Regions from separate parts of the Homo sapiens genome. Here region 1 is linked to region 2. A link means that fine-mapping ties the variant in region 2 to the expression of a gene that starts in the linked region. Tissue or cell type: monocytes after Pam3CSK4. Region 2 holds a variant in brackets; the other region holds the start of a gene. All regions are shown on one strand. Distances are between the middles of the regions.

What was found. PIP is the estimated chance that this variant, and not a neighbour inherited with it, causes the effect.
Region 1: TTLL10 starts here. The variant in region 2 is the best candidate, but not a certain one, in a credible set for the expression of TTLL10 in monocytes after Pam3CSK4 (Quach 2016, PIP 0.89).

What each region holds. Positions count from the first base shown.
Region 1 is chr1:1,171,267-1,176,633 of GRCh38, forward strand. TTLL10 (tubulin tyrosine ligase like 10) reads left to right here and starts at 2,614. Exons shown (of 16, transcript NM_001130045.2): 1 at 2,614-2,660; 2 at 3,019-3,055; 3 at 3,158-3,223. It overlaps TTLL10-AS1 (TTLL10 antisense RNA 1), which reads right to left. Exons shown (of 2, transcript NR_173246.1): 2 at 1,790-5,130. RefSeq lists enhancers at 1-107, 4,331-4,849 and a silencer at 2,764-2,853.
Region 2 is chr1:1,989,623-1,994,989 of GRCh38, forward strand. It overlaps CFAP74 (cilia and flagella associated protein 74), which reads right to left. Exons shown (of 39, transcript NM_001304360.2): 2 at 1,268-1,353. The coding sequence starts at 1,334. Among named protein-coding and RNA genes, the nearest start is that of CFAP74, 11 kb to the right of the region's middle. The variant A/G (reference allele first, on the strand shown) is at 2,184.

The DNA of each region.
Region 1 (5,367 bases), 820 kb before region 2:
ACAAGGAAACCCGTCCTCCGAGGTGTGTGTCCAGATCACATCCTCCAAAGGCCGGTGCGCCACAAAGATGAACACGGGGCTCTCCCTCCCAGCCCAGGGGCAAGGACCCTGCCTTGCTCTGTTCCCGGAAGGGCCAGTTCTGGAGAGGAGCTGGGCGAGTCCTTCCCATCCCCATCAGCTCCTGTCAGGCCACCTGCCTCAGCCTCAGGGAGGAGGGGACACACGTAGGCCCCTTCCCAGAGTCAGAGCTTCCGAACCCGGATCTGCTGCTCCCAGCCTGGAGAGCCACAGCAGCCACCGAAGGAACCCCCCACCCGTCACCCCCACCAAGTGGGCCCTGCTCCCCGAAGGCCCAGCCACTCAGCCCAGGACCTGCCCCAGCCCCACCTGCCACCTGACCTGAGGCTCCCAGAGGGCAGAGGGGCCTCCTGGGTCTGCTCCGCACCAGGGTCCAGCGGGACCATCTCAAAGCTTGAGCACCAGGCGCAAGGTGGGAGTGCGGGGAGGGGACGAGGACACTGTTCCCAGCTGGACAGAACCAGGAGGACGGTGGGAGACGCCCCCCACCGCCCCGCTTCCGAGAGCTCTCTCTTCCTTCCAGGGACTCCCCAGGGACAGCCGGGGCCCCTTCTTCCCCCACAGCTCAGGCCCCAGGGACACAGAGCGGGGAACCCCCAGGCTGCCGCCCCGGCGTGGGTCGGGGAGGCGGCTCCGGAGCGGGCACCACACTCTCGAAAGGGTGGCTTCTCCTCCCGGCTGCTGAAAAACCACACAGGCAGGCACAACAACAGACGCTTACGCCCGCATCTGGAGGCCAGAACTCCAAAGCCACAGGGCAGGCAGGGCTGCACCCCTCTGGGGGCTCCAGGAGAGGACCCTGTCTGCCTCCCCAGCCCCTGCCAGCTCAGGCATCAGTGGCTGTGGCCGTGTCACCCATCTCTGCCCCCCAGTCCCACGGCGTCTCCCCCACGTCTGCGTCTCCTCTCTCCACCTCCCTCTCAGGGGGGCAGAGGCCATTGATTCAGGGCCTGCCCTGGGTGATGTCACTAGAGATCCTGACGTAACCCCACCTGCAAAGCCCCTTCTTCTAAATAAGGTCACATTCGAGGTTTCAGGGCTATGATGTGGTTGTCTTTTGGGGGCACCACCAGCCCCCTGCAAGGGGACCCTAAGCACAGAGGCCCTCGTGACCCACGCAAAGCTCTGAAGGACACGGATGGGTAGGGGACACGTGGCTGGAGGCTCAGAGTTTGAGGCAGAGGGGATCAGACCGTGCCATGGGTCATGCCAGGAGCCCAGGACTCCCAGACCTCGTATCATTAGGTGTTTTAAAGAGAAGGCGAGGGCAGGCCAGGCGCAGTGACTCACGCCTGTAATCCCAGCACTTTGGGAGGCCGAGGCGGGCGGATCACCTGAGGTCAGGAGTTCAAGAGCAGCCTGGCCAACATGATGAAACCCTCTAAAATTAATAATAAATTAATAATAAAATAATTATAATAATATAGAAAATAATATATAAAATAATAAATATATAAAATATAAAACAAAATAAAAATAAAAAATAAAATTAATATTAAAAATACAAAAATTAGCTGGGCACTGTGGTGGGCACCTGTAATCCCAGCTACTCGGGAGGCTGAGGCAGGAGAATTGCTTGATCCTGGGAGGCGGAGGTTGCAGTGAGCCGAGACCGTACCATTGCACTCCAGCCTGGGCAAAAGAGTGAGACTCCGTATTTTGAAAAAAAAAAAAGAGAGAATGTGAGGGTTAAACAAAGACACACAGAGATGGAGAAAGGGCAGCCTTACATCAACACGGGTACATTGCAAACACCTGCAGAGGTGGGGGACCAGCTGGATGCCAGAGCCCACTGCCGCCTACGGGCTGGGGTGCCTATAGGTATGGGTGGGAGCGGCCCGGGCCACACGGCTTCAGGATGAGGCCGTTTGTTTGGCCCTTGTTCCCGCAGAAGGTAATCGTGATGTTCCTCGGTGTTTTTCCCCGCAGAGTGTTCAAGTCAGGTGTCGGGCAGGCTGTTCCTCACGGCCCAAACCCCTGCGGAATGCTTCACTTTGGCCGAGGTCTGTGACACAGCGAGGGGCTTACAGAAAGGTGCAGTTTGGACCGATAGATGTGAGTCCCCCTCTGGGGGGCACTCACTTTGTGGAGCCCCCGGTTCCTGTTTGCAGAGGGGGGCACAGTGGCACCTCGTCCGCTGTGGAGTGAGAACAGGGACCCGACCACGTGAAGCACAGAGAATGCTCAGGGATCGGCAGCCGTGTATCCAGCCAACATCACCAGGGTGCACGCAGAGCCTGGCCCGGGCCAGGTCCTGGGGTGCTGAGCATGGGTGGGGCCTGAGAGACGGCTCAGGGACCATCCTGGGAGGGCCGGGCGGAGGGGCAGCAACTGGGGCTCAGGCTCAGGCAGTCCCAGCAGTGACTGGGAGGCAGCTGTGCCCATGAAGCTGTGCCCTTCTCCAGCCTCAGCCCTCAGCCCGGCTTCCCGGGCTGGCCCCGCCACTCAGCAGCCCCTCCCCATCCTCCGAAAACCCAAGCTCACCTCTGGGTTCCGGCTGGGTGGGGGTTGCCAGGAGACGGTTGCCAGGTCACCACTGTTGTTTCCTGGCCCAGGCTCCCAGGACCTTGTGGGCTGGGCAGGTAAGAAGCGCCGGCGGCCACCAGCTGGGGTCCAGTGGGCTCGGCCCCGCCCTCCTACGCCCTGCCTGCGGGTCCCCTCGGGAGGCTGCTCAGGAGAGGAGGAGGCTGGGGAGGGGACTGGACAGGGATCGGGTAGGGTGGGGCCAGGCTGAGCCTGCTCTGCGGGTCCCGGACCCCAGCGCCACCGTGCGAGAGGCTCGGGTCCAGGCCAGGCCGGGGAACGGTGTGTGTACCCGGTGGGGTGGGAGGGCTGGGCAGCCCTGGGACGAGCTCCGTGGCCTGGGACCAGGTCTGCCTCCGCAGAGCAAGTCCTGGACGGACGGCTGCTTGAGCCCACAGGTCGTGCGTCCTTTGACAGCGGCCTCCGGCCGGGAGGCACCAGCTCTTCGAACAATGTCAGTACCTTCCTAGGGCCCCACGTGGCCAAGCTTGGATTCTGGGGGGAGAACTCGCAGCAGGACACTAACATGTGGTCGCTTTTTGGATGATTTCTTCAGGTTTAAAAGTCTCTTCTGTTCATCCTACCGGGGTGCCGTCTCCTGCCGGTCTTTTCATCTCACCAGGTAAAACGCTTATTTTACAATTTATTGTAAGGTCGTGCACCAAGTTTCCACGCCGCCTTTACACCGTGTCCCCACCGAGGGGCGTCACAACCGTCCTCCACACCGGGCGTCACCGGCTTCCCAAGTCCCACCGCTATAAAGGACACGTCAGTCAGCATCTCGGAGTGAGACGCTTTCCTTCTGGATTCAGAATCGCGTCCGTCAGAGACTCCAAAGCACATTTGCTAGATCGACAGGCGTGAGGAGCCAGCGGCTCCCGGCGCTTGGGAGGCTGCGTCCCACCTGCATTCAGGCCCCGGGTTCACCACACACACAGCGGGCAGCTGCTTAAGAAACCTTTGATTTCAGTCCGGGGCGGTGGCTCACGCCTGTAATCCCAGCACTTTGGGAGGCCGAGGTGGGCGGATCACGAGGTCAGGAGTTTGAGACCAGCCTGGTCAACATGGAGAAACCCTGTCTCTACTAAAAATACAAAAATTAGCCGGGCATGGCAGCAGGCGCCTGTAATCCCAGCTACTCAGGAGGCTGAGGCGGGAGAATTGTTTGAACCTGGGAGGCGGAGGTTACAGTGAGCCGCGATTGCGCCATTGCACTCCAGCCTGGGCGACAGAGTGAGACTTCGTCTAAAAAAATTAAAAAAAAAAACACCTTTAATTTCAATGACAAGAAATAACAGCTCACAACTTATTTAGTTATTTGTGAACATCATAAGGACATAAAGTTAGAAAAGCCCAAAGGAGGCCTCAGGCTTACGATGAAATCAGCACCTGGCTGCCTCTTCCAGCTGCTGCTTCTTCTGCAGCAGAAGAGACGGAGGCAGTTTCCTGGGTGGGGGGGTGGGTGCTGTGCTTCCGCTTTCTAACTGCCTGTTTCCAAAAAGCACCTGATGCTGCTGCTTCTGGAGCTTCCAGTGCAGAAATTCCCCGTGGACGGTGAAAGGGGCTTGTCTTCCACACGCTGCCCTGTCCATATCATCCCGGCACGAATGATGTTTGGGGCAGAGCTGCCCGGCCTCCCCGGGTGGTGCCCATTTGTTTTCCTCAGAGTTGGCGATCGCCTTGCTTTTCACATGTGCTTGTGTTCCCGCCTATCCTGAGCTGTCCCTGAGCTCTCTGCCTCCCGTCACCCCCACAGTCACCATCACCACAGCCCTGCAGACTGCGCAGTGTGTGGCGGGTGCTGTCCTGACATTACATGTGGAAACTCCATCTTTGCAGCAACCCTGCGAGGCTGCTGCTCCCAGCTGCTGTGCAGGTGGAGAGAGGCTGCTGTTGTGCAGGTGGAGAGGCTGCTGCTCCCAGCCGCTGTGCAGGTGGAGAGAGGCTGCCACCGTGCAGGTGGAGAGAGGCTGCCGCTGTGCCGGTGGAGAGGCTGCTGCCGTGCAGGTGGAGAGAGGCTGCCGCTGTGCCGGTGGAGAGGCTGCTGCTCCCAGCCGCTGTGCAGGTGGAGAGAGGCTGACGCTGTGCAGGTGGAAAGAGGCTGACGCTGTGCAGGTGGAGAGGCTGCTGCTCCCAGCCACTGTGCAGGTGGAGAGAGGCTGACGCTGTGCAGGTGGAGAGGCTGACGCTGTGCAGGTGGAGAGAGGCTGCCGCTGTGCAGGTGGAGAGACTGCTGCTCCCAGCCGCTGTGCAGGTGGAGAGAGGCTGACGCTGTGCAGGTGGAGAGAGGCTGACGCTGTGCAGGTGGAGAGAGGCTGCCGCTGTGCCGGTGGAGAGGCTGCTGCTCCCAGCCGCTGTGCAGGTGGAGAGAGGCTGACGCTGTGCAGGTGGAGAGAGGCTGACGCTGTGCAGGTGGAGAGGCTGCTGCTCCCAGCCGCTGTGCAGGTGGAGAGAGGCTGACACTGTGCAGGTGGAGAGAGGCTGACGCTGTGCAGCTGGAGAGAGGCTGACGCTGTACAGCTGGAGAGGCTGGGGCACACAGTCATCAGGTCAGCTGCAAGCTCACAGCTGCTGCATCTTTTCCCTGACAGCTCACTCCTGTGAGAGTCTTCCAGGCTTCCCGGAGGGACGGATGTCTCCTCACCTTTTCCCACCTCCACACCTTTTCCCACCTCCACACCTGGTAGGCCAGGTATGGAATTCCTGGAATTCCCGGCTGGGAGCCTCCTGGGCCGGTTCCAGCCCTGTGTGTCCCCAGGAAGGCTG
Region 2 (5,367 bases):
GCTAATTTTTATATTTTTAGTAGAGAGAGGGTTTCCCTATGATGACCAGGCTGGTCTTGGACTCCTGACCTCAAGTGAGCCACCCGTCTCGGCCTCCCCAAGTGCTGGGATGACAGGCGTGGGCCACCACACCCGGCCCGTGTTAGGATAAATCTTGACACGCACTAACTTGGTGGTACCACACCCGGCCAGTGTTAGGATAAATCTTGACAAGTCTAACTTGATGGTTCTCAAAGCAAAATCCGAGGAACCCTGAGGGTCCCTTAGTGTCCTTCAGGGCCTGTGAGGTGAAAACTGTCTTCATGATCACACTCGCACGCCATTTGTCTCCTCACTCTCTTCCCATGAGAGGACAGTGGCGTTTTCCAGAGGCTGCATGACAGGTGACGTCACAACAGACAGCTCTAAGACTCCAGCTGTCTTCCATTAAACCCAACTCTTAACGTTACTGCCAATAGGTTCGTTATTGCTATTTTAAGTGGCTACGTATTAAAATGTTTCCAGCTTTAATTTTTGATACAGTAAGTATGGAAAGATACAGGCAACATAAACAAATGTTCTCTGTGTCTTCAATAATTTTTAAGAATGTAAAGGGGTTCTCAGACAAAAGAGGCTGAAGGTCACTATCTCAGAAGATTACAGCGGACTTCCGGCAAAACACGGCAAAGGGAACACAGTTTTTCTTCCCTTCATTAAATCTCAGTAAAAATGATGGAAAAGGCAGAAAGCCACAGTCACAAGGGGGGCGGGAGAGGGAGACAGTGGCGGGGGGCAGGGGGGAGAAGGCCACACAGCGCCAGGAGCTGACTCAGCACACAACAGAACCCAAAACGGGGTGGGGAGTGGGGTGGGGGTGGGAAGGAAATGCGTTCCCAGATTGCGATGGCCTGCCTGTGCCCAGAACTAGAACCAAATCAAGGCACGTCTCAGTAACATTTCAGATCATCAGAGATTTTTTAAAAACAGCTTCCAGGAAAAGAAAACAAAAATAGGTCACATTCAAAGGATTGGGATAAAAATGGCATCAGATTTCTCAATACTGATGTTGGAAACTAGAAAACTATGGTCTGCCGCCTTCAACATCTCAGCCACAATTTATCTTTCTTTCAAATAAAGACAATAATATAAGCTCCCTCTTTGAGAGAAAAATATGAGTGTAAAAGATACCCTCTCCCAGAAATAAAGGGAATTAAAGGGCTACTATGAAGCATGTCATTTGTTTGTCTTTTTGCTGAAACTTCCGTTACTGTGAAAGAAGCTTTATTACCATCTTCCAAAAGAAGGGCATCGGCCAAAAGCTCGTCCTCAGGGAGCAGGCTGCCGTCATCCTCCATGCTGGGAGATAGAAATTAGCTGCAAAAGATGATCGCAAAATATAGATCAATAAAATCATAGATTTAAAAGACGGTGAATTAACCATTTCTCTTAAAGAAGGCATTAAGAAAACAAACGACAGATTAGGAAAAAATATTTGCAGCACACACATATCTGACACAAGTCTTACATCTGGAACACATGAAGAGCTCCTATCAACCACATGAAGTCCAAACTCCAGTTTAAAAGGTCAAAGAGGCCGGGCGCGGTGGCTCATGCCTGTAATCCCAGCACTTTGGGAGGCCGAGGCAGGTGGATCACCTGAGGTCAGGAGTTCCAGACCAGCCTGGCCAACGTGGTGAGGCTACAGTGAGCTGTGATGGCACCACTGCACTCCAGCCTGGGCAACAGAGTGAGACCCTGTCACAAAAGAAAAAAGAAACTGCCCAACAGTATCCTCGAGTATCACTTTACACTCCCACCAGCAAATACCAAATTAAAATAATGAAATACAACATTAGCTGGGTGTGGTGGCGCATGCCTATAATCCCAGCTACTCAGGAGGCTGAGGCAGGAGAATTGCTTGAACCCGGGAGGCAGAGGTTGCAGTGAGCCGAGATAGTGCCACTGCACTCCAGCCTGGGGACAAGAGCGAGACTCCATCTCAAGAAAAAAATGTCAAAAGATTTGGAATTCCATAAGAAAAGAGATATACAAATGGCCAATATGCATGTGAAACTGTGTAACATCAGTATCTTTAAGGAAATATGAATCAAGCCATAATGAGATACTATTATATACTGAGTAGAATGCCTGAGATTGGCTGGGCGTGGTGGCTCACACCTGTAATCCCAGCACTTTGGGAGGCC[A/G]AGGTGGGCGGATCACGAGGTCAGGAGATCGAGACTATCCTGGCTAGCACAGTGAAACCCCATCTCTACTAAAAAACAGAAAAAATTAGCCGGGCATGGTGGCAGGCGCCTGCGGTCCCAGCTACTCGGGAGGCTGAGGCAGGAGAATGGTGTGAACCCAGGAGGCGGAGCTTGCAGTGAGCCGAGATCGCGCCACTGCACTCCAGCCTGGGTGACAGAGCGAGACTCCGTCTCAAAAAAAAAAAAATGCCTGAGATCAAAACGCTGCCAACAGTGAGCACTGGCAAGGCTATGGAAGGGCTGGCATCGTCACGCGTTGCTGGTGGGAGTGTAAAGGGATACTCTGGAACACTGTTGGGCAATTTCTGTTTTCTTTTGTGACAGGGTCTCACTCTGTTGCCCAGGCTGGAGTGCAGTGACACAATCACAGTTTACTACAGCCTCAAACTTCTGGGCTCAAGCAATCTTCCCGCCTCAGCTTCACAAGTGCTAAGACTACACGCACATGCCGCCATGCCCAGGTAATTTTCAAATTATTGGTTGAGATGGTGGGTCTCTCTTTGTTGCCCAGGCTAGTCTTGAACTCCTGGTCTCAGCCAGGATTCACCCACCTCAACCTCCCAAAGTGCTGGGATTACAAGCTTGAGCCACTACATCTGGCACCAAAAACAATTTTTTTTTTTTTGGAGATGAAGTCTCGCTCAGTCTCCCAGGCTGGAGTGCAGTGGCGGGATCTTGGCTCACTGCAAGCTCTGCCTCCTGGGTTCACGCCCCTCTCCTGTCTCAGCCTCCCGAGTAGCTGGGACTACAGGCGCCCACCACTACGCCCAGCTAATTTTTTTGTATTTTTATTAGAGATGGGGTTTCACTGTGTTAGCCAGGATGGTCTCGATCTCCTGACCTCGTGACCCACCTGTCTCGGCCTCCCAAAGTGCTGGGATTACAGGCGTGAGCCACCACGCCTGGCCCAAAAACAATTCTTAAATAATTTCAAAATTATCATTACACTTTGCTTATCATTTTGGGAATGTTAGGAGCTTGCTCGTGTGGAACTCTTGGTACCGAATCTTCTGTGTCCAGATGTTGGAACTAAATAATTTCACTTAAGAAACAGGCCGGGCACAGTGGCTCGCGCTTATAATCCCAGCACTTTGGGAGGCCAAGGTGGGCAGATCACTTGAGGTCAGGAATTTGAGACCAGCCTGGCCAGCATGGTGAAACCCCATCTCTACTAAAAATACAAAAACTAGCCAGGTATGGTGGCAGGCACCTGTAGTCCCAGCTACTTGGGAGGCTGAGGCCCGAGAATTGCTTGAGCCCAGGAGGCGGAGGTTGCAGTGAGCCGAGATCACGCCACTGCATTCTAGCCTGGGCGACAGGGGAAGACTGTCTCAAAAAAAAAAAAAAAAAAAAGAAACAATGTTAAAATCACAAACTCTTTACTTATTTTTTTCTGGTGAGAATTAAATTTAATGGCTAACTTTCTTTTATTTTTTTGAGACAGGGTTTGACTCTGTCACCCAGGCTGGAGTGCAGTGGTGCGATCACAGCTCACTGCAGCCTCCAACTCCTGGGCTCAATTGATCCTCCTGCTTCAGCCTCCCAAAGGAGCTGGGACTACAGGCACGCACCACCACACCCAACTGATTTTTGTATTTTCTGTAGAGACAGGGTTTTGCCATGTTGCCCAGGCTGGTCTCAAACTTTTGGGATCAAGTGATCCACCTGCCTTGGCCTTCCCAAGTGTTAGAACTAGAGGCGTGAGCCACCGTGCCCGGCCGGTGGCTGTTTTCTATTAGACCTTAAATATGTGATTGGTTTTAACGCCTATTAATCACATTGTGCTTGTACCATGATTAATATACAAAACAGCTGATGTCAAATGCTTATAAATCAGCAGGGCACAGTGGCTCACGCCTGCAATCCCAGCACTTTGGGAGGCCGAGGCAGGTGGATCACGAGGTCAGGAGATCGAGACCATCCTGGCTAACACAATGAAACCCCACCTCTACTAAAAATACAAAAAATTAGCCGGGCGTGGTGGCGGGCGCCTATAGTCCCAGCTACTCGGGAGGCTGAGGCAGGAGAATGGCGTGAACCCGGGAGGCGGAGCTTGCAGTGAGCCGAGATCACACCACTGCACTCCAGCCTGGGCGACAGAGCAAGACTCCGTCTCAAAAAAAATAAAAATAAAATAAAAATAAAAAAATGTAGCCAGGCGTGGTGGTGGGCACCTGTAGTCCCACCTATTCAGGAGGCTGCGGTGGGAGGATCACTTGAGCCCAGGAGGTCGAGGCTGCCGTGAGCTGTGATTGTGCCACTGCAGGCCAGCCTGGGTGACAGAGCAAGACCCTGACTCTAAAAGGGTTAAAAAAAAAAAAAAAAAAAGCTTTAAGTCAATGTACCTAGTATAGAGACAGACATTTAACATTGGGAATTAGCACTACCATTTTGCATTGAAATAATGAGTAATTCCGGGTGAAATGTACATAAATGTTGACATTATGTATGAGATGCTAAAACTGTAAAATTGTAGAGGACTGTGTTTCATTGCTTAACTTAGCAATCGCTTCAGAATAATTCACTAAAAATATTTTCAGTGCCTAGCAATGTTTCTTGGATAAATTATTAATGTATCAATGCCAGTAATTTTTTAAACTTACAAAGAAACAATTGCATTTTAAAGTCCTGGGAGGCAGAATTTTAAGGCATCTTGTAAAATTCCAACAATATTTTTTCCACTTGAAAGAACTGATTAAGCTGCTAGTCTTTGAATGGCAGGATTTTCAGAAACTATTTAGAAAATGGCCAAACCTATTCAGCTCTGTGCTTGTGAATTCCATGCGGCCTCCGCGACGTCATTTTGCTGGACACCCCGTGGATGTCAGTCTTCTAAAAGGTGTCATTGCACACACACAGTTCCTCTGAAGATGATCACACTAAACCATATACACTGAGCATCCGGTTAAAGACGGCACTTCCAACAGGCAGCCACCTCTGATCTCTCCTGAGTCCTCACTAACAACAGGGGGTAGATTTATTGTTTTCAGTACATGAATCTACCAGGGCAAGGGTCATTGGGAGAAACAGGAGCAAAGAGAAGCGGGAGGTGGAGGGATGAGGGTAGCTGTCCCTGCAGACAGAGGCGCTGGCTGACCCTCTGCAGGAGAAGCTGAGAACAAAC